7 linked regions of the Homo sapiens genome follow. The protein of the gene in region 1 purifies or fractionates together with the protein of each later gene. This does not show direct contact. Each region holds a gene or a part of one and is shown in the gene's direction. Other genes may lie near its edges. The genes, in order: PSKH2, MYO5A, SPAG9, GLUD1, HADHA, FKBP5 and IQCB1.

Region 1 (4,253 bases):
GGTCTGCAAAGCAATAGAATTTGAAATGCCTGTGATTATCTTCAAAATCACACTGAGAATGCATGTGAATAGAAAAGCAGAGTTGGAAAGGGAAAAGGGGAAAGAATCTATTTAAGATTACTAAATTGCTATCTGTTTTGATAAGGTAATTGGCCAGAAAATTAAATGCTCTGTGGAGAACAAAGCTGTTTTCTGTAATCTGGTACAGCCAAATGTCATTTTTATTCAATACACACAGGAATATAAAGAACAAACAAGAAGGCAAAAAAAAAAGTTACAGGAAAAATAAGCTCAATAAAAGAAGTAAGACTATTTAAAGCATAGTTTAGTATTTGCATTTGAATCTTTGGTATTGAATATGTGATATAAAAACGTGCCTTCTCCCTGGGTACTCCCTGAGTACATTCCATTCTCTGTCATCCTTAGCTAGGAGAGGTTTTATTAAAATGAAGTCCAGGCACAGTGGCTCATACCTGTAATCCCAACACTTTGGGAGGCTGAGGTGGGCAGATCACTTCAGGTCAGGAGTTCAAGACCAGCCTGGCAAACATGGTGAAATCCCGTCTCTACTAAAAAAAATACAAAAATTAGCCAGGCATGGTGGTGTGCACCTGTAATCTCAGCTACTCAGGAGGCTGAGGCAGGAGAATCTCTTGAACCCGGGAGGCAGAGGTTGCAGTCAGCCAAGATCATGCCACTGTACTCCAGCCTGGGTGACAGAGCAAAACTCCATCTCAAAAAAAAAAAAAAAAAGGAGACCTGCGTTCTAATCCTGACTCTACAACGTAAACAACCAATTGGCTAATGTGGTCTTCAAATTTCCTCATCAGTAAAACAAGAAGTTGGGTTAAATACCCAACTTTAATATTCTTTCCAGCTATACAATCGTGATTTTAAGTCTAGCATTTTCTCAACATGTCTTAAATATGAGGTAGAGGGTTAAATTTGATAGGATTCTATTTTATTTTATTTTTTTAATTTTTGAGACAGAGGTCTCGCTCTCTCACCCAAGCTGGAGTGCAGTGGTCTGATCACAGCTCACTGCAACCTCAAATTCCTGGGCTCGAGGGATCCTCCTGCTTCAGTCCCCTCAGTAGCCGGGGCTACAGCTGTGCATCATGATTGGCTAATTTTTAAATTTGTTATAGAGAAGGGGTCTCAGTTTTTTGCTCAGGCTGCTCTCAAACTCCTAGGCTCAAACAGTCTTCCCACCTCGGCCTCCCAAAGTGCTGGGATTACACGATGAGCCCACCGTGCCTGGCCAGATTCTTAAATTTTAATAGACGTTTACACAGATAATTAAAGCTTAAGATCCCTAGCATTTGAAATCTGAGCTGATATCCTGGCCTTTTTTTCTTCAACTTTTATTTTAAGTTCAGGGGTACATGTGCAGGATGTGCAGGTTTGTTACGTAGGTAAACATATGTTCTTGGCCTTTTTGTGGGATAATTGGTTTACAAATTATTGACATACATTCCATGTTAAAATTCTCTTTACTGCCGAGAAATTCCAAGTGTGGGTATGGGGATGGAGGGAGACTGTGAGAAGCTACTGGCTGCAAGGTGGCCCTAACACTACTCCCACCAGACTGCTGAAACCGGCTCTTATAATAGCACAGCTGCATTTACTTCTTCCTTATTAACAGCTACTGTGTACAAGATGAGCCTGGGGCTGAGCTCACAGTCAAGCAACCCAAAGAAACATACTGTTTATTCTCTGTCTTCTGATATGGGATCCTCAGCCTTTGAGAAATTATAAACAGGAGTAAGCTTCTACTTTATTCTCCCCCACTTGATTTGTTTGTTGTTGAAGAATGACAAAAACAAGGGCTAGAGGAAGGAAAGAAATTGGTAGAGGGGGGTCTTAACATTCTTGAAACAGTTTTTGTGAAATGCATTTGAAAGGGCTGGATTTGAATCCCATCCATTCCAACCACAATCTGGGTGCCCTTGATAACTCATTTAACTTCTTTTTAAGTCTGAATTTCCTTATTTGAAAAAGGGGGATATTATTATATTACCCAGCAGGGTTTTAGTAGGGATAAGATTTTTAAAAATTGTTGGCATATAATAACTGTATAATAAATGGTAGTTATTGTATTAAGATTGTCTTTCTACCAACAAATTACCTTTATATCGTTTTCCTCCATTTCAAAACAGGATTTGGGGTACCTTTCAAAAAATAATAAACACAAGTAATAATAAACAAATAAATCTGATGGGAGGAATAGAAGGATAGAAAAGATGATATAAAGCATGGACTTAAATAATTTTGAGAATCATCACTTCTGGGGATAACATGTTTGGTTTTTCTTCCCAACAGATATGACATCAAAGCTCTTATTGGGACAGGCAGTTTCAGCAGGGTTGTCAGGGTAGAGCAGAAGACCACCAAGAAACCTTTTGCAATAAAAGTGATGGAAACCAGAGAGAGGGAAGGTAGAGAAGCGTGCGTGTCTGAGCTGAGCGTCCTGCGGCGGGTTAGCCATCGTTACATTGTCCAGCTCATGGAGATCTTTGAGACTGAGGATCAAGTTTACATGGTAATGGAGCTGGCTACCGGAGGGGAGCTCTTTGATCGACTCATTGCTCAGGGATCCTTTACAGAGCGGGATGCCGTCAGGATCCTCCAGATGGTTGCTGATGGGATTAGGTATTTGCATGCGCTGCAGATAACTCATAGGAATCTAAAGCCTGAAAACCTCTTATACTATCATCCAGGTGAAGAGTCGAAAATTTTAATTACAGATTTTGGTTTGGCATACTCCGGGAAAAAAAGTGGTGACTGGACAATGAAGACACTCTGTGGGACCCCAGAGTACATAGCTCCTGAGGTTTTGCTAAGGAAGCCTTATACCAGTGCAGTGGACATGTGGGCTCTTGGTGTGATCACATATGCTTTACTTAGCGGATTCCTGCCTTTTGATGATGAAAGCCAGACAAGGCTTTACAGGAAGATTCTGAAAGGCAAATATAATTATACAGGAGAGGTAAGAGAGCATTATTTTATTTCTATTGTGTTGGTTTAGAGTGGGGCTTCTCCACCTTGTCACTTTTGACATTTAAGACTGGATGATTTTTGGGGTTGTCCTGTGTGCTGTAGGATGCTTAGCAGCATCACTGCCCTCTACTCTAAATACCAGTAATGTACCTCCCCCAGTTGTGGGGCCCCCAAATGTCTCCAGACATTGTTAAATGTCCCCTGTGGGGCAAAATCGCCCCTGACTGAGAGCCATTTGACTCAAGATAGCAAGGGCCTCCATTACTAGCTGCCTGTGGTTAGCACATGACACTGACAATCAAGTAGATAAATGAGTTCCTCTGCAGTTTTTTTCTCCAATCTGTGCAGAGCCTGAGCTGGCTGACTAGACTAATGTGTTCACAGAAACTCAGCATGACGCTTGGGTGTTTAGCGAGAGATTTTTCTGCCTTAAATCTTGATGATCCAAGCCCTTTTTGTGATGAAGTGTTTTCTCAGCGAAATGTTTAACCTCACAGCTTGTGTAAAATATTTATCCACTGATTAAACTTGAAACTCCCAGTGTTCATGAATGTGTTAACTTTTTTGTTGTTTTGGGTAGGGAAGGAAAGTTGCCAATGCTTGTGTGTGGGAAGCCTGACAAAATAGGAAATTCATTTCATGTACAGCAGATGAGCAAATTTATTTGACTTCTAATTTCTCATGAAGAAAAACATTGATATTTGCTTATACCTACTTAAAATGTAACGTGTATATCTACAGCAACATCTTTAAGCAAAATTAAAGTTAAACACCAAATTTAAATATAATGTTTTCTACACTCTGACAGACCTTTAGTGCCTTATGGTACATGTATATGTTTTTACAAACTCATTCAAATTGATAAATGAGAGCTAAAATTTATACAAGGAAGTAGGAAAGGATGGGAAGAATTCACAGACAATGCAATACCACTGATTATTAAAAGTCTGAAAAATGTCCAGCCTCACTAATGACCAAAGAAATGCAAATGAACACAAAAATGTCTTTTTATTGTCTTTCAAATTCATAAAGATAAAACAACAAACAACTAAATTCTACATATGGCTGTGAAGGGTACTGAGAGATTAGCCCTCTCACTAAGTACTAGTAGAGGACAAATTGTCACAGGTTTCTTGGAAAGTAGTTTGAAAATATGAATCTAGAACTGTCTTAGTCCATTTTCACACTACTGTAAAGAAATATTCAAGACTGGGTAATTTATATTTTAAAAAAGGTTTAGCTGTCTCACAGTT
Region 2 (4,253 bases), on another chromosome or scaffold:
TTTAAATAATGAAAGAGAACTGGAGGAAGCTTTATGAATGGGCTTCCAGGGATTTAACTGTAACCTCAGGGGAGGGGTGACAGGGAATGCTAACTCGTGTATGGGAGAATGTGGGAGAGGAGAGATGATCCGCCTTACTTCTTACCTCAGAAGGTAATTTAGTTTCTCTGTTTTTCATTTTATGATGAATTTTGCCTCCATTGGGAGAATTCAGGAGTACGTGGTCCACTAGAGGATAGACTTGGATGTATTTGTCTCCACTTCAGGCAATTCCCAGTGAAGTATGAGGTACTGTTGGAAGTCTAAACTTCTGATCTGTGGAGTAAGGTCTGGCCATAGACAAAATATTATGTGAGCAATTCCACTTCTTCCACCTCACCTGAAGGCATGTCCTCCATCCTACAGTGGTCTTCCTAGACTTATTCTATTTATCTTCCTAGGGAGTTTGTCCTTTTCTCCCCAGCACCACCCCACTCCCAATCTTTCATCAACTTTATTGAGGTATAATATACTTGAAAAGTCCCTCATTTTAAGTGTACAGTTTGATGAGTTTTGACACATATATTCTGTCATGTAACCACCGCCACAAACAAGATGCAGAACATTTCCATCACCCCAAAAGTTCCCTTGTGCTTTGTCTCTTATCTTCCCCAACATCTTCAGGGAGTTTACTGGAGTTATGCTTGCTCATTAGGGCAGAAGGAAGTTTTTTCTTTTTGGTTTTTCCGAAATGAATGCTATGGTTCCACCTTAGCCCAACCAATAGAGATACTTATTACAAAGGCCTGGCATTGGAGATCATGGCTGTGGAGTTTCATTTTCAGTGGGAGGCGGAAGTGGATATAAAAGGAGTTTAGATGATTTTTGTTTAATCTTTCCTTCACACACTGACCACTTTGCCTTTATTAATGATGTCTGCCTTTGATGCCTTCTGAAATGCCCTTTGGTTAATTTTGCCCTTTAACGGTTCCTCTTCCCCATCTGTCTTGGTTGTAACATCAGTCTGAGTTTGTGCTGATACAACCTAAACTTTGCAGAAACTTATCCCTGGCTCTTCATGCCTCAGGCATTCTCCATTTCTCTTCTAAGCCCTCCTCACTTGGAATTCTTTTTAACTAGCAGGCATTAGCGTTAAATATCTCCTTGTACAGCAAAGGCTTTTTGCCAATTGTAGAACTTAGGGATGATGTAATTATTTTTTGATTTCAAAATAATGGTTCTAAACTTGATTGAAATCAAGGGAGAAGTGCATTGTACATAATGCACTAAGTGTTCATGAGGACCATGTATCTACCTCCTGTGGCCTAATGTACTACTGTGGCCAAAAATGTGGGCAAGATGCTGGGCTAGAGGGAGACTGGATGCACAAAAAAGATAGGTTTTGTCCATCTTTTGTCACATATACAAAAACATATAGTCCTGGCCAGGAATCCTGCATGTGTGGTTGGGGTTTCTACTTCTTGACAAATGTACATGAAACTAGAGAAATTTCAGAATAGGAGAAGTAAAATGATCAGGGCAGTGAAGAGGCTAGACAGATTAAAGGTGTCGAACTCTCTAGTTTAGAAAGATGAAGGTGAGCTGGGAATACAGTAGAGGTTTTTTTTTTTTTTTTTTGAGACAGAGTCTCGCTCTGTCACCCAGGCTGGAGTGCAGTGGCGTGATCTCAGCTCACTGCAACCTCTGCCTCCTGTGTTCAATCGATTCTTCTGCCTCAGCCTCCCGAGTAGCTGGGACTACAGGCATGTGCCACCACCCCTGGCTAATTTTTGTATTTTTAGTAGCGATGGGGTTTCACAGTACTGGCCAGGCGGGTCTCGAACTCCTGACCATGTGATACGCCTGCCTCGGCCTCCCAAAGTGCTGAGATTACTGGCGTGAACCACTGTGCCCAGCCCTATAGTAGACTCTTTGACATCCAGAATAGTGGAAGTTTGTAACATCAAATCTCAGTTTAGTAGGGATATGTTTTAGATCTTGAAACAAATCAATATATGCCATTTTAAATGAATTTCTACTTTAAACATTTACATTTTACATTTCTGAAACTCATCACTTCAAGTTATGGTATTAGCTGAGGTACAGGATGTAAATAGAGAGGGTCTGGGTAATTTATGGATGAGAGGTTTGGCACATTGACTTACCAAACCTCTCTTTAACAGTGTTAGTCAGTTTACCAGCCACAGCTGTTTTAGTTGGAAGAAACAGAAACCCAAACTCAAAGCCAAAGAGGAGTTTATTTGCTCATGTGACTTAAAAATCTAGGCATGGCTGGAATCAAGGCTCAGACATGGTCATTGGGGCTCTCTTCACTGACTCTCACATGCTGTCTGACATTGGTTTCATCCTGAGGGCAGCTTTTTTTAGGGGTGAAAAGATGGTCAGTGGCACCTGCAGATCACATGATCTTACAGCACTGGGCCTGGAGGAAGAGAGCCTGATAGAGGAATTCTGGTCATGTGCCTTCTCCTTTCATTGGGCCTCTAGGCAGTAGGTGAGGAGCACCATGAGTGGTCAAGTCTGTGCTCACCCCAGAGACCAGGGGGAGGACAGGGCACTGTGATTGATAGTCCTACTCCAACCTCATGGGATGGCTGTGAGCTGTTCGCCATTGGAAGGAAAAGTGCTAGGTAGTCAAAATAAACAACTACCCTCAGTCCATGTATGCTATGAATAGGTCACTGAAAATGATAGTCATGGAATTCTACCCCTCCTTTTCTGATCTTTGAGCAAGAAGAATGGGAAATTTTGCTTGACCGGGGACATTAGGTATCTTTCCCCTAGAGAATCATTTTGGATTGAAAAATAGAAGCCAGGCCAGGTGCGGTGGCTCATGCCTGTAATCCTCAGCACTTTGGGAGGCCAAGGCGGGCGGATCATGAGGTCAGGAGCTTGAGACCAGCTTGGCTAACACGGTGAAACCCTGTCTCTACTAAAAATACAAAAATTAGCCGGGCGTGGTGGCGTGTGCCTGTAATCCCAGCTACTCAGGAGGCCGAGGCAGGAGAATCGCTTGAACCCGGGAAGCAGAGGTTCCAGTGAGTTGAGATCGTGCCGGTGCACTCCAGCCTGGGCGACAAAGCAAGACTCTGTCTCAAAAAAAAAAGCCATGGAGCGTCTGTGCAAGCAAATGTTACTAATAGCATGTTAGAAATTGAAATTTTGAAAATTTATTCAGTCTTCAATTTTGATTTTTCATGTATTATTATTATTATTATTATTATTATTTTTTTTAGACAAGGTCTCGTTCTGTTGCCCACACTAGAGTGCAGTAGCGCAAGCATAGCTCACTGCAGCCTCGAACTCCTGGGCTCAAGCAGCCCTCCCAGCTCAGCCTCCTGAGTAACCGGGACTGTAAGCGCATGCCACCATGCCTGGCTAATTTTTTAATTTTTGTAGAGACAGAGTCTCACTTTGTTTCTCAGACTAGTCTCAAACTTTTGGCTTCAAGCAATCTCCCACTTAATTATCCCAAAAGTGCTGAGATTATAGGCGGGAGCTACCATGCCCGGCCATTATTCAGTCTTAATTTGGGGGCTATGAACCCTATGTCACCTTTCTTACTGATTTCTTTCTACCGTATTTCCTCAGCATTTTATTTCCCCTATTTTCTTCACATCCTTGCTTGCATACGTTATTCTCTTCCCCTATTTTCATACATAGATAAGTTGCACGATTTCTTATTGCACAACAGTAAGAATTGTGCACAATTTCTTTTTGCCTGTCCGTCATTCCTTGTTCATGTCTAGTGGTAGTCTGTCTTCTGTTCTCTTCCTTCCACCTGTTCATCTGCTTTATCCCCCTACTATTTAATTTTATCTACCCACCCCTTATGCCCTGTTATGATTTGTTATAACGAAGTATATATACATCCCACACCTATAATGGAATAAAATAAGTTACTAAAGGGTGAATCTTTTTTTCATAACTTAGATTGAGGAGGGAACTTCATTTTTGTTTTTGCTTTATTACCACTCCCTGATCTGACATCACAAAGGAAGTCATTTTTTATGAGTTTGCATAAATCATTTTCTGTGTTTGTGAGCATGTTTATGTGTTTCAAACAAACACTTTTGTGTTAGACTAGTTTTAGACTAGTTAGACTAGACTAGTTCAACCTTAGTTTTTTAGCTTACCATACTGGTCTGCATTACAGTAAGATGACTAGATATTCCTTTAAAGATATGATCTCACCTTAAAACACTTTTCTGCCAGTACTTAAACAACTTTTACACGGGGTTGGTCTCTCTATG
Region 3 (4,253 bases), on another chromosome or scaffold:
GCGTGAGCCACCACACTTGGCCCACACTTGATATTTTATTTTTTAATTTTATTTATTTTTGAGACTGAGTTTCACGCTCTGTTGCCCAGGCTGGGGTGCAGAGGCACGATCTTGGCTTACTGCAACCTCTGCCTTCTGGATTCAAGCAGTTCTTCTGTCTCAGCCTTCTGAGTAGCTGGGATTATAGGCATGAGCCACCATGCCCAGCTACTTTTTGTATTTTTAGTAGAGATGGGGTTTCACCATGTTAGCCAGGCTGGTCTTGAACTCCTGACCTTGTTATCTGCCTACCTTGGCCTGCCAAAGTGTTGGGATTACAGGCATGAGCCACCATGCCTGGCCCATTTTTTAAAAAATTTATTTTTGAGACAGAGTCTTGTGCTGTCGCCCAGGCTGGAGTGCAGTGGTGCGATCTCAGATCACTGTAACTCCCACCTTCCAGGTTCAAGCAATTCTCCTGCCTCAGCCTCCCTAGTAGTTTGGGATTACAGGCACGCGCCAGCACGCCCGGCTAATTTTTGTAGTTTTAATAGAGAAGGGGTTTCACCATGTTGTCCAGGCTGGTCTCAAACTCTTGACCTCAGGTGATCCCCCTGCCTCGGCCTCCCAAAGTGCTGGGATTACAAGCGTGAGCCACCGCACCTGGCCTAAAAAACACATATTTTAATATTTTTATAGATCTTTTGATTGATTGATTGAGACGAGATCTCACTCTGTTGCCCAGGCCAGAGTGCAGTGGTGTAATCCCGGCTGACTGCAACCTCTGCCTCCTGGGTTCAAGCGATCCTCCCATCTCAACTTCCGGAATAGCTGGGACTACAGGATCATGCCGCCATGCCTGGCTAATTTTTGTATTTTTTGTAGAAATGGGTTTCCCATGTTGCCCAGGCTGATCTTGAATATTTGGGCTCAGACATTCCTCGCACCTCAGCCTCCCAAAGTGCTGTGATTACAGGTGTGAGCCACTGCACCCAACCTATTTTCTTTTGTTGTTGTTGTTTTTTTTTTTTTTGAGATGGGGTCTTGCTTTGCCACCCATGCTGGAGTGCAGTAGCGCGATCTTGGCTCACTGCAACCTCTGCCTCCCGGGTTCAAGCAGTTCTCCTGCCTCATCCTCCTGAGTAGCTGGGACTACAGGTGCTCACAACCACACCTCGCTAACTTTTGTATTTTTAATAGAGATGGGGTTTTACCATGTTGTCCAGGCTGGTATTGAACTCCTAACCTCAGGTGATCCACCTGCCTTGGCCTCCCAAAGTGCTGGGATTACAGGTGTGAGACACTGTGCCCGGCCAACCTATTTGCTTTTTCTTTTCTTTCTTTTTTTTTTTTTTTTTTGATATGGCATTTCACACTTGTTGCCCAGGCTGGAGCGCAATGGTGCGATCTCAGCTCACTGCAACCTCCGCCTCCCAGATACAAAGGATTCTCCTGCCTCAGCCTCCTGAGTAGCTGGGATTACAGGCATGTGCCACCATGGCCAGCTAATTTTGTATTTGTAGTAAAGATGGGGTTTCTCCATGTTGGTCAGGCTGGTCTCGAACTCCCAACCTCAGGTGATCCGCCGGCCTCGGCCTCCCAAAGTGCTGGGATTATGGGTGTGAGCCACCACGCCCGGCAGCGGCCAACATTTTTTCATATTTTTAAAAATACCATTTTTTTTTTCTGAACTGTTTGTTTTTGTGATTTTTTTTTCCTTTGGTTGGGTTTTTTTTTTTTTCTTTTTTTTAGAGATGAGGTTCAGGCTGGAGTGCAGTTGTGCAATCATGGCCCACAGCAGCCTTGACCTCCAGGGCTCAAGTAGATCCCACTTCCTCAGCCTCTGAGCAGCTGTGACTACAGGCATGCGCCACCATGCCTGGCTAATTTTTAATTTTTTTTGTAGAAACAGGGTCTCGTTATGTTATGCAAGCTGAACTCACTATGTTGCCCAGTCTGGTCTGGAACTCCTGGGCTCAAGTGGATCCTCCTGCCTTGTGGATCCTGCCAAAGTTTTTTTTTTTTTTTTTTTTTTTTTTTTGTTGAGACAGAGTCTGGCTCTGTCGCCAGTCTGGAGTGCAGTGGAGTGTCTTGGCTTGCTGCAACCTCCACCACCTGGGTTCAAGCGATTCTCTTGCTTCAGCCTCCTGAGTAGCTGGGACTACAGGCGCGCGCCATCACACCCAGCTAATTTTTGTATTTTTAGTGGAGATGGGGTTTCACCATGTTGGCCAGGATGGTCTTGATCTCGACCTCAAGTCATCTGCCTGCCCCAGCCTCCCAAAGTGCTAGGATTACAGGTGTGAGCCACTGCGCCTGGCCTTTTTTTTTTTTTTTTTTTTGTAGAGATGGGGTCACACTGTGTTGCCCAGGCTTGTCTTGAACTCCTGGCCTCAAGACATTTTCTTACCTCAGCCTCCCAAAGTGTTGGGATTGTAGGTGTGAGCCACCACACCTGGCCATGGTTAACGATTCGAATAATGTTCACACTGCCCCTAGCCAGAGTAGATAGAGATATGCCCCTGCACCTAGTCATTCAGACACTTTCTGAAATGAACAATCTATGTTTGTTTTCTGGCGGGAGTGGGATGGGAAGGGGTATGGTTGTTGCTTTATGAAATAATAATTTGTTAGTTAATTATTACTTAAGCTCCTAAGACATTTTTTTTTAAAGACAAAGACTAGCTCTGGATTAAGACATCTTTTTTTAAATTTGAGATTTCTGAATGTGAATATCTAAATGAGATACCATTATGTGTCCCTGCTGTAGTGACACTCATATTTTTATTTAGTTAAAAATCACAAAAGAACGCTACGCATGGTGGCTCATGCCTGTAATTTCAGCACTTTGGGAGGCCGAGGTGGTGGATTGCCTGAGGTCAGGAGTTCAAGACCAGCCCTGACCAACATGGTGAAACCCCGTCTCTACTAAAAATACAAAAATTAACTGGGCATGGTGGCGGACGCCTGTAATCCAAGCTACTCCGGAGGCAGAGGAAGGAAAATCACTTGTACCTGGGAGGCGGAGGTTGTAGTGAGCCAATATCTTGCCATTGAACTCCAGCCTGAGCTACAGAGTGAGACTGTGTCTTCAAAAGAAAAAACAAAACAAAAAAAAATCACAAAAGAGGACACCAAACTGGGTATAGTACCAAACTGGTTCAGAGGGTAGATTAGTAGATTGACTATTCACTGGATTGCTGAAGTGTGTGCCATAGGTCACACATCCAGTTCTGTGCTTGAGAGAGTACAGGATTCCTGCTTCTTGAAATCTTTACCTTACCTTTAACTACATGCTGCTTACTTATGTTGTACTGAACTTTGCTTCTCAGGAGAACTGATGTTAGAACCTACCCAAGTTATTTTGCTCTGCTCTGCACTCAATGAATACAGCTGTTATCTAAATAAGTTATTAGGTTGTGGTCAGAAATATCTGCATAGACCAGTTTAATAATGTATGTAATGTTATATATATTTAAAAAGCTGTTATTTGGAAATGGGTATATATAAGTTCTGTTTTTTACTTTGAAATCTTGACCAGTGATATTTGATTATTGCTTTGAACATAGCACTGTGTTTTCTTTTCTTTTTTTTTTTGAGACGGAGTCTTGCTCTGTCACCCTGGCTGGAGTGCAGTGGCGGGATCTCGGCTCACTGCAACCTCCGCCTCCTGGATTCAAGCGATTCTCCTGCCTCAGCCTCCCGTGTAGCTGGGACTACAGGCGCCCGCCACCACACCCGGCTAATTTTTTGTATTTTTAGTAGAGATGGGGTTTCACTGCGTTAGCCAGGATGGTCTCAATCTGACCTCGTGATCTGCCCGCCTCGGCCTCCCAAAGTGGTGGGATTACAGGCATGAGCCACCCACCCGGCCATACTGTGTTTTATTTTCTTAAGAATTACAGCATTCAGTAGTTTGGCATAATAGGCACACCCAAAAATGTGTGAGGTGAACCATGGGAATTTATATATTAATGTAATAGAGAAGTACCAAGTTGAGGGTATAGAATTTTATTTTATGTTATTTTTTTCGAGACAAGGTCTGGCCCAGGTTGGAGTGCAGTGGTGCGATCTTGGCTCACTGCAACTGTTGCCTCTTGGGCTCAAGCCATCCTTCCGTCTCAGCCTCCCAAGTAGATGGGACTACAGGTGTACACCACCACGCCCAGCTAATTTTTGATATTTTGTAAAGACGGGTTTCACCATGTTGCCCAGGCTGGTCTCGAATTTGTGAGCTCAAGTGATCTGCCTGCCTCGGCCTCCCAAAGTGCTGG
Region 4 (5,022 bases), on another chromosome or scaffold:
CCGTGCCAGCCTCGTTAGTTTGAAAAGCACCAAAAGCTATCCATAGGAATGTGAACTTTAGCATTTCCTATCAAGTATGTATAAATACATAACTGAACCCTCATACAGCATAAAGCTTATAAATCATATACTGAGGCCAGGCGCGGTGGCTCACGTCTGTAATCCCAGCATTCTGGGAGGCCTAGGCGGGCGGATCACTTGAGGTCAGGCGTTGGAGACCAGCCTGGCCAGCACAGCGAAACCCCGTCTCTACTAAAAATGCAAAAATTAGCCGGGCGTGGTGGCGCGGGCCTGTAATCCCAGCTACCCCGAGGCTGAGGCAGGAGAATCGCTAGAACGAACCCAGGGAGGTGGAAGCTGCAGTGAGCCGAGATGGTGCCACTACACTCCCGCCTGGGCGACAGAGCAAGATTCCATCTCAAATAAATAAATAAAATAAAAAATAAATCATATACTGAACCATTTAACAAATACATATATTCCTGAGAAAGAATTTCCTGGGGGCATTATCGCATTTCTAGTTTCCTTATTTTAGACTATTTCAGAGGGAGATAGGGTCTCCCTCTGTTGCCCAGGCTGGGGTGCAGTGGAGCTATCGTAGCTCACTGCAGCCTCGAACTCCTGGGCTCAAGCCATCCTCCAGCCTCGACCTCCCAAAGTGCTAGGACTAAAGGCGTGAGCCACCGCGCCGGGCCGGAGCCTCTGTCTGCAAAGGTGAAGCAGTCAGTACTGTGGGGCGACACAACCACGACGTGCGTAACTATGCGATCTCCACACTGCGGAGCAGTTGAACGGGACAATAAAAGCTCGCGTGGTGAGAGCTTGTGGGCGAGTGACTCCCTTCCAGCTCACGCCAGCCACGCATAATCCAACTCCGGGTGCCACGCCGCTCTCTGCAGCCCTGGCTGGTGACGCCGAGCCCTCAGCCCGGCCTTACGCGGCGGCGGCTCTGCCTCGCTTTCCTGCCCACGTGTCAGCCCCTGCACGCCCGGCCCCGGCCTGAGGCCGCCAGAGGACAGGCCAGGGTGGGCCGCCCGTTCCGAGGGCGCGCGGGCGGAAAGGAGGGGCGCCCGTGACTCACATGACCCGGTCCCCGACCAGACCGCCAAGCCTCACCCACGCGGCGCTCGGGGGGACTCGGCCTCTGAGCGCCCTACAGAGGCCAGCCCCCGACCCCGACCTCCCTGGGCTACCCCCAACCCCCCTGAGGGACCCCCGCGGCGCACATACCTGAGAGCCCCGCCGGAGGCGGGTGCGGCCTCCGGGCAAATCCGGCCGCCCGTGGGCCCGCCCCGACCCGCCCCGACCCGCCCCGACCTTCCCCTCCCTGCCCCTCCCGTCCGTTCCCCTCCACTCTCCTCCCCGCCCTTCCTCTCCCCTCCCCTCCCTTCCCCACTGGCGCGCGAGCGTGCGCGCCGAGCCCGCCCGCGCCTGCGCGCCCCCGACGCCCCGCCGGCGCGCGCTGCCGCCAGCGAGGCCCGGGGAGGCCGCGGCGGAGGCGGAGGCCCGGCGCCCTGGGCGGCGCCCTGTCCCCGAAGTCCGTCCTCCCCGTTAGGTGGCGAGCGCCCGAGGGGAGGGGACAGCCGGGCAAGCAGGAAGCTGCGGCTTAAAAGGGCAACCCGCGCGGGACCCTTCCTCCCTAGTCGCGGGGAGTCTGAGAAAGCGCGCCTGTTTCGCGACCATCACGCACCTCCCCTCCGCTTGTGGCCATGTACCGCTACCTGGGCGAAGCGCTGTTGCTGTCCCGGGCCGGGCCCGCTGCCCTGGGCTCGGCGTCCGCCGACTCGGCCGCGTTGCTGGGCTGGGCCCGGGGACAGCCCGCCGCCGCCCCGCAGCCGGGGCTGGCATTGGCCGCCCGGCGCCACTACAGCGAGGCGGTGGCCGACCGCGAGGACGACCCCAACTTCTTCAAGATGGTGGAGGGCTTCTTCGATCGCGGCGCCAGCATCGTGGAGGACAAGCTGGTGGAGGACCTGAGGACCCGGGAGAGCGAGGAGCAGAAGCGGAACCGGGTGCGCGGCATCCTGCGGATCATCAAGCCCTGCAACCATGTGCTGAGTCTCTCCTTCCCCATCCGGCGCGACGACGGCTCCTGGGAGGTCATCGAAGGCTACCGGGCCCAGCACAGCCAGCACCGCACGCCCTGCAAGGGAGGTGAGCGTCGGCCGGGCCCCGTCCCGCCCTCCCTGCCTCCCCTGCGGCCCTCCCCTCCGGCCTCCTGCCGGTGCGGGGCCGCTGCTCAGCCCAGCCCAGCCCAGCTGGAGCGGGCCGGGTCCCCGCCCGGGTCACCCCGCCTCGGATGTGGCCGGCTCTGTGGATGGTGATTTTTCCGCCTTAAAATCATCATGCGATTGGCCTGCCCCCTCCCCCGCGCCGTCACCCCGGGCCTCTGTATATGCTGATCTTGCATGCAGAGTAGACGCTGCACCGGTCTCCTTTTGGTCCCGGTGTCTGTGTCACACACGGCGGGTCCTGCCGAAATGCACTTCTAGGAAAGGGAATGACCTGCCCGTGTGATAATGCCTCGTCAGTGTTCTTGGGCTTTTGTGAGTCTCCCCTAAATGCAAGCTGTCAAATTATTTTCTGGTATTTGTTCACTCCTGTTCCAATAGTGACAGATGATATCCGAACATAGAAAATGACTTGGCTTCTAAGTTTGAAATCTAGACAGTTTTATTAACCAAAGGAATTTACTAATCACGCGTTAATCGTTTCAATTAAGTAATTTTCCCATTCTGACAAGTTCTGTTTTATACCAAAAAAAAGGAAAAACACAAAAAAATCACAAGCAATGTAATATCTCTGACAAATAAACACCTGGCGTCCTGACAGTAAATTTACAGGTTGTAGGCTGCGGATGGCCAGCCAGCCAATGGAATGAAATAGCTCTGGGGGTGTGTACTGGTCCTGGCTAGCCCTGAATTTGAGCTTCAGGAAAAATATAGTACGTGAAGAAAGGGGTCAGATAATGTTTGGTAGTCACTGGGTTATCCTGTGGTTTAAATCATTTAATGTCTGTAGATTTGGCCTCTGTAGTCAGATTGCTTTCTTCGAGCAAATAAGAGCTTTTTTCCCCCCAATACATTGCATCATACCTCTTTAGTAACATAAAATGGAAAGGACAAACCACTTTTGTCTACTGTAAAAAAGAAAAATTATATGGAATAAAGAGCCCAGGGAGGCGAGGAGTCTTGTTGGAGGTGGATTGGCTGAGAAGCACAGAGGATGTTGGGCTAGACCCATGTCTCAGTAAACCTGGTTCTGTGGTCTTTCAGTTATGCCCGCTGACTTATGAGGATTTTTAGAAATCCTCTCTGTACCGGAAAAAACTTGAGCGGTGCTGGTGTTCCCAGCAGGGGGGACAAAGGTTGTTTTTAAAGATTTACTAAATTTGCATTGACCCCGCCCACTTCTAGGACTTAACTTTGGAGCTTAATTATCCCCTAGCTCTGGTTGCCTCAGCCAAAACCAATGTTTGAACCACTTTGACCTCTGATTTCCTTTCTAGCTTCAAAATTGTATAAAATGTACACACCGTCAGTCTCCTACATTTGCCTGCCTTCTTCCTACCACTCCCTTATTATCCAAACCAGGAAAACAAGTTCAGACTCCAAAGAAAGGCAAATAAGGATGTTGGAGGAAGTTCAGGCAATGTTTAGCAAATATTGAGTTGCATCGTTTTCTTAAAACGGACATCAAGTTTATTTTTTACTATCTTGCTGGCAGCATTTGCCAGTCCTTTAAAAGGTGTACAGATAAATCAGTGTATGTGGTTTTCTGCAGGATGATTTGGTCTCTGAAATCCTTTTTCTTCGATTCTTCAGATGCCCAGCTCTCTCCTGTTTTTATAAGTCGCAGCTCCGCAAACTCACTGAAGCAACTCGTTTACCATAGTTTGTGAGTCCTCTTTCTCTTGTTGCCACAGCAGTTTTAATGCCAAAATATTGAACCTAGCAACAAATTGGGTCAGCCATACCAAAGCACTGTTACTGTAGCACTTGCTTGTACTAGAGTGTAAGATACAATTTTCTGTTCCGTTTATCCCATTTACAAAAAAACATGCTATTAACCCCCAGCATATAAACAGGGAGAAACTGAATTGTTACTAGTAAACTGTTGCAAGCATTGATAGAACATCAAAGAAAATTGGCCTCTACAAAGTGACAAATTTATTATCTTCAGGAATTTGAAAGGCTTTCTGGATTGGGGAAGATTACATAGCTATGAAAGCCCTTAAATATTTTAGTTTGCTTAATAAACAGTATACTAAACAGATGATCAGCAAAATTTGGGTACTATAGCCTTCCATGCTTTGTGTTCAAGACATCCCCAGATCTATCTACCCATTTATCACCCTTGTTTGCAGAGAATGTGCATTGTAAGAGAGACAGGTCTTCTTTCTTAAAGCTTTTTTAACGTCTAAGAAATTGTTAACCTTTGTAGTCCCACTCTAGTCTTAGAAACACAGAATATATTAGGTGATTGAGATTTTTTTAAATGCTTTGGATAATCCCTATGAAATTCTGTCTTTCCCTCTTAAACATATTTTAACACGTTCTTCTTACCTCTCCCCACTAACCTGTCTTCTCTCCCATTGGTTCTTTGCCAAAAAAAAAAACCTCATCTGCCTCTCTCCACCCTTTTACCAACCTTCAGCTTTCTGTATCTCATTTTCCCTCAAGAACAACCTTATCCCTGAGTTTTCTAAATTAAAATTCTTGAGGTTGAAGCAAAGCAACAATCTAGCAATAATCTCTAAGGGAAACAGATGGTTATAAGACTTGGTGGCTGATGTGTACTTTTTCCAAGTAAATATTTAATAATACACACTGTTTTTGTGCTTTTCTTTTCCCAGTTACTACATGTACCTGAGGCCGTTAGATTTGTCTGTGTTAAGGATTTGAAAGGGTAAGCTAAAGGATCTGAAGGGAAGTTTAAGTGAGGCCTTAAAAATATTTCCAGCAAAGGGGCATAGTGTGAGAATATGCGACTGATTTGAGAAGACTGGTTCAAAAGTTCTGG
Region 5 (4,253 bases), on another chromosome or scaffold:
ACATTTATGTTTTCTGGATCCAGAATTTTTTTTTTTTTTTTTGAGACAGAGTCTCACTCTGTCGCCCAGGCTGGAGTGCAGTGGCGCGATCTCGGCTCACTGCAAGCTCCACCTCCCGGTTTCACACTGTTCTCCTGCCTCAGCCTCCCAAGTAGCTGGGACTACAGGCGCCCGCCACTATGCCCAGCTAATTTTTTGTATTTTTAGTAGAGACGGGGTTTCACCGTGTTAGCCGGGATGGTCTCATGGATCCAGAAGTTTAACACTCTTTATGGAGAAATGATGTTGCTGCTATTGTGCTATTTGAAGCAAAATCATTCTTAACCTTCTATTTGAAGATTTGTCATCAAATATTGATGCATGATAGGATAAGTGTATAGTGAATAAGTATTGAACCAAATAAATTATAGTTTTATCTTTTTCTCTGTTCTCTACTTTTATGGATAATGCAGCATGTTAGCCGCTTGCAAGACCCTTCAAGAAGTAACACAGCTATCACAAGAAGCACAGAGAATAGTTGAGAAACTTGAAAAGTCCACAAAGCCTATTGTGGCTGCCATCAATGGATCCTGCCTGGGAGGAGGACTTGAGGTATAGATATTCTAAAGTTATTGAGACACTGTCCAACTCATTGGTGGCATTCATCAGCTGTAAACCCTTAGGCTACTGCTTTGCCTGGAAAAAGTTTCTGGAGGAGAATCCGCTTTGTTTTTTGTTTTTTGCTTTGAGACGGAATTTTGCTCTTGTCTCCCAGGCTGGAGAGCAATGGCACGATCTTGGCTCACTGCAACCTCTGCCTCCTGGCTTCAAACAATTCTCCTGCTTCAGCCTCCCCAGTAGCTGGGATTACAGGTGTGCATCACCATGCCCAGCTAATTTTTGTATTTTTAGTAGAGATGGGGTTTCACCATGTTGGCCAGGCTGGTCTCAAACTCCTGACCTCAGGTGATCCTCCCGCCTCGGCCTCCCAAAGTGCTGGGATTACAGGTGTGAGCCACTGTGCCTAAATAGCTTTGTTTTTAGTTATCAAACTTCTGGATAGGTGTTAATCCTTAATCCACATGACACAGAGCAAGTGGCACAAAGCAAGTAAATGAAGGTGTGATGTTTTCATTTGAACTGCATCTCTAATGTCCTTTTCAGCTGTAAAAATCTTGTTCAAGTTTGCAGGGCAAAGATTCAGAAGTGTGATCTAGGCTCTTAAGCTACTTAAGTCTGGTTGAGACACATAAAGCATAATATAAGTGCTTTGTCAGTAGTAAAGACGGTAAATAATAGAAGATTTGAGAGAAGAGATGCTTACTAGACCCGAACATGTAGGAAAGAAAAGAAGGGGAAAAGGAAACATTCATTGAGCACTTTTCACATGCTGAACTCTGTGCCAGACACTTTCACATATGCAGTCATTTACCACATAACGTTTCAATGACCAATTGCACATACAGCAGTGGTTCTATAAGACTGTAACACTACATTTTTCTATACCTTTTCTGTGTTTAGATACAGAAATGCTTATCACTGTGCCACAGTTGCCTACAGTATTCAATAGTCACATGCAGTCCAGGTTTGTAGCCCCTTAGGACAGGGGTCCCCAGTTCCCAGGCCATAGCCTGTTAGGAACTGGGCCCCACAGCAGGAGGTGAGCAGTGGGCGAGTGAACATTACCACCTGAGTTCCGCCTCCTGTCATATCAACAGTGGCATTAGATTCTCATAAGAGCTGGAACCCTGTTGTGAACTGCACATGAGAGGGATCCAGGTTGCGCACTCCATTGGCCTCTATTGCCTGATGATTTGAAGTGGAACAGTTTCATCCTGAAACCACTCCCTCCCACCCCACCCCCAGTTCTTGGAAAAATTGCCTTTCACAAAACCTGTCCCTGGCGTCAAAAAGGTTGGGGACTGCTGGACTAGGAGCAATAGGCTATCCCATATAGCCTAGATGTGTAGCAGGCTCTGCCATCTGGGTTTGTGTAAGTACACTCTGCGATGTTCACACAACAACAAAATTTCCTAATGGTACATTTCTCAGAACATATCCCCCTCATTATGTGACACATGACTATATTAATTAAGAAAACCTGTGCCTGGTCCTAAACTATAAGCAGAATTTGATTAACCAGAATATGGAGGGAAAAACAATTCCGCATATGGTATGGTGTGAGCAAAGGCAAAAGCAAAGCCAACTAGGACACTGTAAGTAGACGTGCTTGATTGGAGAGTCCGGGGCTTTTTAACCTGGGGTCCATATAAAATTGTGTGTGCATTTTTCTCTTGAGAGCTTCTCTAGCTTTCAGTAGATTTTTTAGGAGATCTACGGCCCAAAAAGAGGTTAGTAAATTAGAGGAAAAGTATGAAAAAAAGGCTAAAAAGGTAAATTCTAGAAATTATTAAATGCCAGCCTAAGGAATTTCAGTTTATTCTGTGAGCACATTCCTGCTTTATAAATAATCTTTAGACCCTTATCCATCTCAAGTTGCTACTAAGTTACATTTTCTAACATTCTAATTTTCTTTCATTTGTTCAAAGGTTGCCATTTCATGCCAATACAGAATAGCAACAAAAGACAGAAAAACAGTATTAGGTACCCCTGAAGTTTTGCTGGGGGCCTTACCAGGAGCAGGAGGCACACAAAGGCTGCCCAAAATGGTGAGTCTAACATCCCCTTTGTGAAGCTATATGCCCTCTTTAGATCTGTTTTCTTGTATAAAATGCATAATATGGGCATTCATTGTAGAATTAAAAAACCAAATAAAATATGAGTGTACAGGATCAGTGACAGACTTTATTCCTGGTACTTATTTTTTCAATTCCACAGATTTTTTTTTTTTTTTTTTTTTGAGACAAAATCTTGCTCTGTAGCCCAGGCTAGAGTGCAGTGGTGTGATCTCAGCTCACTGCAACCTTCTCCTCCCAGGTTCAAGCGATTCTCCTGCCTCAGCCTCCCCAGTAGCTGGAATTACAGGCGTGCACCACTGCACCCAGCTAATTTTTTATATTTTTTAGTAGAGATGGAGTTTCGCCATGTTGGCCAGGCTGGTCTTGAACTCCCGACCTCAGGTAATCCTCCCGCCTCAGCCTCCCAAAGTGCTAGGACTACAGGCATGAACCACCATGCCTGGCCTAATTCCACAGAATTATTGATCAAGGTCCTTTGTTAGTCTCTGAGGAAGGATAAAGATAACTAAGATGCATGTCTTGCATTTCTGGAGCTTATGGTTTAATTGGTTCCTTTTCCACATAATACCATCTTAACAGTTTTTCAAAACCATGAGTCATATTAATATTTCATTACAAATATAAGAGGCAGACCTTTTCCCTCATTGTCTGATTTGGATGTTCTCACTGCTGTGTTGTATGGAACCAAAAGAGGCTCAGCAGGCTTTGAATTCCAAGGAGAAGGGAAGGACAGTCAGACCTGGATGCTGCAGAGCAATCTTAATGTCAACTCAAGGGCCCACTGAACCTTATAGCTTCTGGCACTGTAGATTCCTCAGTGAAAACAAGGCTCAACAGAAATACTCTTTGCAGGGAAGTTGATCTCAATTGAGCACAAAAGAAAACAAGGTTTATGGTGTTAATTTTCTAATAATAATAATGTGCTTTCCTTCATAGGAATGTCATAAGGATTTATTGAAAGAATGAATATGCATATATGTGTATCAAAAATATTTGCTGAGTTTCTTTCTTTCTTCTTTTTTTTTTCTTAAACTATAGCTGGTATTTGAATGTTGCTAGAAGCCTTTCTTCTAGTATGCCATATAAGCAGCCCTAGCTGAGTTCTATTTTTGTTAAGCTTAAAATTCTTTTTAAAGACTTTGTCAAAACTATCAGGTTTCTCACAGTCTTCTCTAGTTTCAATATGAGAATTTTATTTTATTTTATTTTTGGGACAGAGTCACTTTTGTTGTTCAGGCTGGAGTACAGTGGCATGATCTCGGCTCACTGCAACCTCTGCCTCCGGATTCAAGCAATTCTTGTGCCTCAGCCTCCCAAGTAGCTGGAATGACAGGTGTGCCCCACCATGCCCAGCTAATTTTTTGTATTTTTAGTAAAGACAGGGTTTCACCATGTCGGGCCAGGCTGGTCTCAAACTCCTAACCTCAGGTGACCCGCCTGCCTTGGCCTCCCAAAGTGCTGGAATTACAGGTGTGAGCCACCGTGCCTGGCCAGAATTTTACATATTATATATATGATAGAAAAAAACCCCTCAGAATAACAGAAATGTACAATTTTAGGAAACATGAAATTCTT
Region 6 (4,253 bases), on another chromosome or scaffold:
CACACACACACACACACACACACACACATATACGTATATATATACACACACACTTTTTTTTTTAAAGAAAGAGCTTGGGATATATATTTCTATACTTTTTTTAAGAAAAAGATTGGAAGAGACATATATATACACACAGACACATACATACATTTTAAAGAGATTGACGTATGTTTTTAACCTTTTTTTAAAAAAGAAATGGGATATATATATATATACTTTTTTTTCTTTTTTTTTTTTTTTAAAAGAGATTGTTTCTTGCTCTGTCACCGAGGCTGAAGTGTGGTGGCTAACTGCAGCCTCGACACAAACTCCTGGGCTCAAGCAATCCTCTTGTCTCAGCCTCCCAAAGTGCTGGGATCCCAGGCCCAAGCCACCATGCCTGGCTTAAAAATGTAGTACATTTGAATTGTATCCTTTTGAAATTGTTCGTTTTTTGGAAAGAAGAATAAGAGATGAAGAAAAATCAGACTGGAAGAGGGTTGTTTTTTCCCTTTTGTAGTTGCAAATCCTAAGTGGGCAGTGGTAAATTTCTAGAATCATTTGTAGCATTCTGTTTTAAACTTGGCAATTTAAAGATGTTATAAATGAGGAGTCCCCAGAAAATGGTCATTTCATTATCAAAAGCAGGGTTGCAAATTTCAGATTGATCTTTTCAAAAGTTAGATTTGTACTTGTTCTCAGTGTTCCTATCTCTGGAAACTAAAGAACCTCCTCCATTGTTAGCTGAAAATTGCACAGTGAATTTGAAAGTCAAGATGTCCCAGTCATGGACATAATGCTGCGATAGGTTACTTTTTGGAATGGAGAAAACATCTTAGAGATTGAGTCTGCATCAGAATATATTCTGAATGAGCATGGAATGTTCTTTACCCATGTTAGATATTAATTAATTAAGTTTTTCCATGTTTAACTTTTTTAAAAAAGCAAGACAATAAAAACAGTCTTGTAATCTGAACACATATTTTGGGTTTTGTTGCTAGCATAAAAATTATTACCTAGTGGATGGTAACACTGTTTTGAAATTCTAGCTTGGAGGAGATGTTTGTTACAAGAGAAAAGGTGTTTCATTGAAACCTAACAGGGTAATTTACATGGAGAGATACTTGTTTCTCTTTTGAGTTATTGTTAGGTTAAGACATAAACTTAGAAAAATTGAGATGCTCATCTTTCCCATCTTAGATTTACTTTCACTATGAACTTTATAAATTCTTTTTTTTGAGACAGTCTCACTCTATCGCCCAGACTGGAGTGCAGTGGCGTGATCAGAATTATTCAAGCTTATGTATGTGTGTGTATTACACATATATTACACATATGTATAAATATCAAATATCTTTTTTACATTATATATAATGGTATATATGGTTGCTATATGTTTTATGTGTGTATAGCAGTATCTATCTATACTGCCTTATTTCCCAGGCATATTTATATGCGAAACTTTTTTTCTGTGAAATCTTATTGTACCAAGAGGAATAAGTATATATGCCCACAAAAAGACTGGGTCATAGCAGCTTTTTTCACAGTAGGAATAAACTACTGATTCACATAGCAACATAGATGAATCTCAGAAATACTGTTCATAGCAAGAGAAGCCAGGCACAGATGAGTATGTATAAGTGTTTATGATGCCATTTATGAAAAATACAAGAACAGGCAAAACTAAGGTATGGTGATAGAAATCAGGACAGTGGTTGCCTCTGGGTAGGGGTTGTGGTTGACTGGAAAGGAGCACAAGGAAACTTTCTGGCATGATGGAAATATTCTGTAGCTTGACTTGGGTGATGGTAATTCAGTTATATACTTTTTGGGTAACTTCGTTTTCATGTAATTTTTAACTTACAGAAAAGTTGCAAGACTAGTACAAAGAGCTTCCGTATACCTTTATCCAGTTTTGCCAATTGTTATATACATTTACTCAAACATATTGATTCAAACTTAAGATTTTATAGTATGTAAATTTTACTTTAATAAAGGAAAGAAAGCTAAAAAAAGTGTTGAAAATGAGGATGATCTTGTTATCTAAAAAACATGAAATACCTCAGTTAGGAATTAACCAGTGGTTTAATAATGATGAGAAAAAGAATCGTTGGCTGTCTTTTGTCTTCATGTATATGTATTTATACTGCTTTTCACTAAAGACTCATGACATGTTTCTGTTAGAAGAAACAGGATCCTCAAAACGATTCAAGGTAGAACTGCCTACAAGGCAAACCTGCTTTATTTTGTTATCCTACACATGTCACCTAGGGAATGTGACTGAAACCTAGCAATAGCTTTCTGGGAATTGGAAGTTGTGACTGTTTCTGTTAAAAGAGTTGTATACCTACAATGTGCTAGCTGTTGCAAAGACATGAACAGTTTTTACTATCCTAGAACTTAGCCAAAGAAGAGGAGGCATACAAATCTGGTTGTTGTTTTTGGGTGGTGCTATTTTTCATAGGCAGGAAAGACATTGGTGTTTGTAAACTAAACTATTCTTGATCATTGGTAAGTGGTAAATCTGTCACTGTCTACTAGATTTAATGTTTCCACAGCCTCAATAGTGTGATTTGATTTAGATTAAATCAATTTAAATCATAGCTTAAACAATAATGGCTAAAAAAATTCAACTTTCCAATTCTACTACTTATTTTATGTAATTTTTAGTATGTGTTCATTACAATTTAGTATTAGGCATAATTAATGGATATTGGTTCTTTTTGTTTTTTCTTTTGAAACAGGGTCTAATTCTGTTGCCCAGTCTGGAGTGCAGTAGTGCGATCATAGCTCACTGCAGCCTGGAACTCCTGGGCTCAAATGATTCTCCTGCCTCAGTTTCCTGAGTGGCTGGGACTATAGGCGTGCACCACCATGTCTGGCTAATTAAAGAAAAATTGTAGAGACAGAGTCTTGCTGTGTTGCTCAGGCTGGTCTTGAACTCCTGGCCTCAAGTGATCCTCCCACCTTGGCCTCCCAAAGTGTTAGGACTGCAGGTATAAGCCACTGTGCCTGGCCTGGTTCATTTTTTTAAATCTTTTTTTTTTTTCCATCTACATCAGAAAGTTGTTTTATTTGGTCATATAGTCGAGTAGAAGATGTTTGAAGTAACTGGAGGGCTAACCAGATGCTTCAACAAATTAATCATTGATATTCAACATAAACATTTATTTTGCCTTTACTCATGAAAATAATAAAGTTATATGACCTATATATTTTTATTTATAAGTTTTTAAATTTAATATATTTTTATTTCAATAGCTTTGGAGTACAAGTGGTTTTTGGTTACATGGATGAATTATATCATGGTGAATTCTGAGATTTTAGTGCATCTGTTACCTGAGTAATACACATTTTACCCAATATGTAGTTTTTTATTCCTTTCCCCTGCCCTCTTCTGAGTCTCTAGAATCCATTATATCACTCTGTATGCCTTTGTGTACTCATAGTTTATCTCCCACTTATAGGTGAGAACATGCAGTATTTGGTTTTCCATTCCTGAGTTAGTTCACTTAGAATAATGTATCCAGCTTTATCAAAGTTGTTGTAAAAGACATTATTTCATTCCTTTTTTATGGCTGAGTAGTATTCCGTTGTGTGTGTATGCCATGTTTTCTTTACTCATTTAACTTATATATTTTTCAACAAAAACATAATTCTTTGAAGAATGACAGATGTCTGATATCAATCAACATGGATAAAAGGACTAACTTCTTCCATGTAATAAACATGTTCATATTTCTCTGAAATGACAGAATAGGCCTTTTCCCCTTTTATGGTCCATTTCACTATGGTGTTTAATTGATCAGTCGAGAATGAAGAAAACATTCTTTGAAAAGTATCTGCCAGAATTTTGTTTAGAATGGTCAGCCTTAACTGAAGATAGGATTTAAAAAGTATACCTGTAAGTAGACCTTTTTAGACTTTTTATTATGAAAGTTGCATACATACACAGAATCGTAGAGAATTGTCTAATGAAGTTCCATATACCTCCTCTCCAGATTCTTTAATGAACCTCCATGTACCCATTCCCCAGATTCATTAATTACTGACATTTTGGTTATTTGTATTTCATATATTTTTTTGAGACAGGGTCCTACTTGTTGCTCAGGTTGAAATGCAGTGGTGAAATCACAGCATGCTGCAGCCTTGACCTCCTAAGTACAAACAGTCCTCCCACCTCAGCCTCCACAGTAGCTGGGATTACAGGTATGCATCACCATGACCAGCTAATTTTTAAGTTTTTTTGTAGAGCCACAGTCTCACTATGT
Region 7 (4,253 bases), on another chromosome or scaffold:
CTACACAAAGAAATAGAGTATCGGAAATGGTGATTACATAAACATATAAGATAGTTTTTCTTATATTATTTTAATATATCTATAATATGTTTGCCTACACAAAAATAATGCTGTATTTGAGGAACATATGTATAAGTAGAATGTATTCCAAAAGGGCATTAAGGCTGGGAGGAGATAAATGGAAGTATACTGATGTAAGACTCTTATACTATACATGAAGTGGTATAATATCACTGTGATAAGTGATAAGACTGTGAGAAATTGAAATGTATACTTTGAACCTCAAAGCAGTGAAGAAAATAGCAAAACAAAGAATTTACAGCTGATAAGCCAACAAAGGCAATAAAAATTAATCATTAAAAAATACGCAATCCAGAAGAAGGAAGTAAAAAAAAAAGAAGAACAAAGGAGAAACAAAACCAAGTGGTAGATTTAAACCTATCTATCTTAGATGTAAATGTGGAAAAACTAAAGTTAAAAGACAGATTGACAGATTGGATTTAAAAAGTACAAGCCTACTATATGCTGTCTACCAGAAATGCACCTTAGATATAAAGACACAAGTAGGTTAAAAGTAATGGGGTGGAACAAGATATACCGTGCTTATACCACAGAAAGTTGAAGTACCTGTATTAGTATCAGATAAAGTAAGTTACAGAACAAAGAATATTTCTAGTGCTAAAGAAGGTTATTTCATAATCATAAAAAAAGTCAGTTCATCAAAAGGATGTGTTTATTGACCTAATAGAGTTTTAAAATACACAAGCAAAAATTGACAAGAACTACAAGGAGAAATCCTCAATTAAAGCAAAAGATGTTAATATACCTCTTTTGATATTTAATAGAATAAGTAGACAAAAAAATTAGTATGACCACAGATTTGAACAATAATATCAACCAATCTGACCTGATTGACATTTTACAAATATTCTACCAAACAGTAGCAGAATACATGTTCTTTTCAAATGCAGATGGAACATTTACAAAGAAGGGTGCATATTCCGAGCCATAAATAAAGTCTCAAGAAACACAAAAGGGGCCGGGCACGGTGGCTCACACCTGTAATCTCAGCACTTTGCTGAGGTGAGCAGATCACTTAAGTCCAGGAGATCCAGACCAGCCTGGGCAGCATGGCAAAACCCCATCTCTACAAAAAGTACAAAAAATTAGCTGGGCATGGTGGCAGGTGCCTCTAGTCCCAGCTACTTGGGATGCTGAGGTGGGAGAATCTCTTGAGCCCAGGAAGCAGAGGTTACGGTGAGTTGAGATCACATCACTACACTCCAGCCTAGGCAACAGAGCAAGACCCTGTCTCAAAAAAAAGAAAAAAGCAACGTAAAAGGATTTCAGTTATACAAAGTATGTTCTCTGGCCTCGATGGAATTAAGTTGGAAATTGATGCCAAGAAGATCTCTGAAAAGTCCCCAAATATGTGGGAAATAATAACATTCATCTAAATAACTCACAAGACAAAGGAGAAATCAAAAGTGAAATTAGAAATTATTTTTAAATGAATGGAAATAAAAACAACATGAGAATTTCTGGGGAAATTCTTAATTAAAGCAGAATGATACTTAGGGGAAATTTATATCACTAATGCCTATATATTAGAAAAGAAGAAAAATCTCAAATCATTGACCTCGGCTTTCCCCTTTAAGAAACTAGGAAAAGAAGGGGGAATTAAACTCTAAGCAGAAGAAAGAAAATGATAAAGGTTGAGCAGAAATCAATAAAATTCTAAGCAAACGTGATAGAGAAATAAACCATAAACTGGATCTTTGGGAAGATTGAAGTTTTTTGAGAAAACAAACCATAAACTGGCTCTTTGAGAAGAAACCTGTAGCAAGATTAATATGGAAAGGAAAAGACATAATACAAATGACCAATCTCAGGAATTAGAGAGGTAACATCGTAACAGAGTCTACAAATACTAAAAATATCACAAGGGAATAATATAAACAACTTTATGCTTATAAATTTAACAACTTAGATCAAATGGACAAATTTATTGAAAGACGCAAACTACCAAAATTTACTCAAGGAGCAATAGAGAACCCAAATATACTCTAGATAGCTATAAAAAAAAATTGAATTTGTAGCTAAAAACCTTCCCACAAAGAGAACTCCAGGTCTGGATGGCTTTTTCACTGTGAATTCTATTAAGCACTTCAGGAAGAAATAATAATCTTAAGCAAACTTTTCTAGAAAATCGAAAAGGAGGAAACACTTACAACTCATTCTATAAGGTCAGCATTATCCTGATACCAAAACCAAACAAAGACATTATAAGAAAAGAAAACTACTCATCAGTATATTCATAAACATAGATAGAAATGTTCTGAACAAAATTTTATAAGTCAAATTCAACAATATATTAAAAAGTTAATACGTCATGAATAATTCTGGTTTATCCCGGCATTCAGGGCTGGTTTAATATTCTGAAGTCAGTCATTGTAACTTATGTTAACAAGCTAAAAATGGAAAAAACATACCATCATATCAGTAGATACAGAAAAAGCTTTTGACAAAATCCATTATCTAGCCCTGATTTTAATTAAAAAAAAAAAAAAAAAAAAAGGCCTTGCAGCAAAGTAGTAATACAAGGGAACTTTCTCAGAAAGCAGATCGGTGGTTTCCTGGGCATAGAATGATAGGGAAGGCAACAAGGGAGGAACTACAATGAAATACAAGGAAGCTTTTAGGGGTGATAGATATATTCATTTTCTTGTTTTATGTTGGTGAAACATGTCAAACTGATGAAATTATATGCTTTACATATATGCAGTTTGTTGTATATCAATTATATTTTTAAAAAGCTGTTTAAAACAAAAATTATGATGACTTGGTGAATGTTTTGATATGGGGTAGATAAAATAAATGGTGCAGTCAGATATGATACCAAGTTTTCTGTATTGGGTGATTAGACTGTGGTATGTGGAATATATAAGAAGTTGGTTTTGTGAGACAGATGATTAATTCAATGTTGGTTATGTTGAGTATAGGTAGTTCAACATGCAGTAAAAGTAAGTATCTATATAAAGACTTATACACAAATGTTCATTGAGCTTTATTTGTGAAAAACAAGGACTAGCTAAAACTCAAATGTCCATCAGGTGAATAGGTAAACTAACTTCTGGAAGAGATTGGGACTAGAGTTACAGATTTACAAATCAGCTTATACATGGTAGAGAAAAACATGACAGAAAGTGAGATTAGTAGGAAGTGTGAATACAATGAGAAAATAAATGGCTTGAAAATGGAGTCTTGGGGAATAACCTTTTAGGGTTATACTGGGGAAGTGGAGCCCACAAAGACAAATGAAAAAGAATGGTCAGAAAAGTATGGGTGGAAGGTAGAGGGGAGACCAGAACTTTGTATCACAGAAGCTGAGTAAGTAGAAAGTATCAGATACAAACAAGTCTAGGAAAAGAATCACTTATGGTATATATGTGACTTGACATTTGGGAAGTTATACTGATGAACTTATCAAGGATAGTATAGTGAAATAGTAAAAAATGAAAACTAGATGCAGTGGTTTGAGAAATGAGATGTGAGATAGTGGCAACAGAAATTGGATTAGAAGAGAAGCAGAGAGATAAGATGGTAGTGGTATAGAGAGGATGTCTTTAAGATTAGGAGGTTGAAGAGCATCTAAAAGCATTTAAACTACTGTATTACATTATAGCACAAACTCTTGGTGGGATATGGAGTAAAGATGTGATAAGATTGGGATAGGGATATCTGTAGAAGGCTTTCTGAGATGAGCATATTTTTTAATCTGAGTTTTGAATAGTGTGATGACATTGACTGATGGGACAGGGTGAGCATCCTAGGCATAGGGAATAGCATGTAAGAGACACAGTGGCACAGAAGTAGATGTCACAAAGATTCTCACATATTTTGATTGGATAACTTTATAAAGTCTTTCAACTCAGAGATTTTTACATTTAAGGTATGTTGCTGATCTCTTTTCTCTTAACAAAATTATTTTAGTAACTACTAAAGTACAATTTTCAAAAAGCTCAAACATGAGTCTTATACAAATATAAAATTTGACTGCTCAAAATTTTATGCAACTCATTAATGAGGGAACAAATAAGATATTTATACAGGGTCAAAGGAGAATTTGAGGAAAATAGATTTATGGAGTTGGTTTGTCGAAGAAATGTAGAAGTAAATTTGCTGATAGATTTTTAAAATTTGCTAATAGGAAAATATGACTTATAAAGCAATGTAGCTTCTAGAATTACCTT

What was found.
Region 2: the proteins of PSKH2 (region 1) and MYO5A purify together in Homo sapiens (affinity purification with mass spectrometry; one large-scale study listed by BioGRID and IntAct). This does not show direct contact.
Region 3: the proteins of PSKH2 (region 1) and SPAG9 purify together in Homo sapiens (affinity purification with mass spectrometry; one large-scale study listed by BioGRID and IntAct). This does not show direct contact.
Region 4: the proteins of PSKH2 (region 1) and GLUD1 purify together in Homo sapiens (affinity purification with mass spectrometry; one large-scale study listed by BioGRID and IntAct). This does not show direct contact.
Region 5: the proteins of PSKH2 (region 1) and HADHA purify together in Homo sapiens (affinity purification with mass spectrometry; one large-scale study listed by BioGRID and IntAct). This does not show direct contact.
Region 6: the proteins of PSKH2 (region 1) and FKBP5 purify together in Homo sapiens (affinity purification with mass spectrometry; 4 studies listed by BioGRID and IntAct, with this or other methods). This does not show direct contact.
Region 7: the proteins of PSKH2 (region 1) and IQCB1 purify together in Homo sapiens (affinity purification with mass spectrometry; one large-scale study listed by BioGRID and IntAct). This does not show direct contact.

What each region holds. Positions count from the first base shown.
Region 1 is NC_000008.11:86,062,701-86,066,953, reverse strand, and holds part of PSKH2 (serine/threonine-protein kinase H2), read left to right. Parts: intron 1-2,322; coding exon 2,323-2,989; intron 2,990-4,253.
Region 2 is NC_000015.10:52,518,592-52,522,844, reverse strand, and holds part of MYO5A (unconventional myosin-Va), read left to right. Parts: intron 1-4,253. UniProt on the Homo sapiens protein: Processive actin-based motor that can move in large steps approximating the 36-nm pseudo-repeat of the actin filament. Can hydrolyze ATP in the presence of actin, which is essential for its function as a motor protein. Involved in melanosome transport.
Region 3 is NC_000017.11:51,110,439-51,114,691, reverse strand, and holds part of SPAG9 (C-Jun-amino-terminal kinase-interacting protein 4), read left to right. Parts: intron 1-4,253. UniProt on the Homo sapiens protein: The JNK-interacting protein (JIP) group of scaffold proteins selectively mediates JNK signaling by aggregating specific components of the MAPK cascade to form a functional JNK signaling module.
Region 4 is NC_000010.11:87,091,457-87,096,478, reverse strand, and holds the start of GLUD1 (glutamate dehydrogenase 1, mitochondrial isoform a precursor), read left to right. Parts: upstream 1-1,635; 5' UTR 1,636-1,709; coding exon 1,710-2,154; intron 2,155-2,391; exon of another isoform or gene 2,392-2,500; coding exon of another isoform or gene 2,501-2,546; intron 2,547-3,824; exon of another isoform or gene 3,825-3,897; intron 3,898-4,855; exon of another isoform or gene 4,856-5,022. UniProt on the Homo sapiens protein: Mitochondrial glutamate dehydrogenase that catalyzes the conversion of L-glutamate into alpha-ketoglutarate. Plays a key role in glutamine anaplerosis by producing alpha-ketoglutarate, an important intermediate in the tricarboxylic acid cycle.
Region 5 is NC_000002.12:26,230,555-26,234,807, reverse strand, and holds part of HADHA (trifunctional enzyme subunit alpha, mitochondrial precursor), read left to right. Parts: intron 1-452; coding exon 453-591; intron 592-2,528; coding exon 2,529-2,648; intron 2,649-4,253. UniProt on the Homo sapiens protein: Mitochondrial trifunctional enzyme catalyzes the last three of the four reactions of the mitochondrial beta-oxidation pathway.
Region 6 is NC_000006.12:35,678,896-35,683,148, reverse strand, and holds part of FKBP5 (peptidyl-prolyl cis-trans isomerase FKBP5), read left to right. Parts: intron 1-4,253. UniProt on the Homo sapiens protein: Immunophilin protein with PPIase and co-chaperone activities. Component of unligated steroid receptors heterocomplexes through interaction with heat-shock protein 90 (HSP90).
Region 7 is NC_000003.12:121,800,135-121,804,387, reverse strand, and holds part of IQCB1 (IQ calmodulin-binding motif-containing protein 1), read left to right. Parts: intron 1-4,253. UniProt on the Homo sapiens protein: Involved in ciliogenesis. The function in an early step in cilia formation depends on its association with CEP290/NPHP6.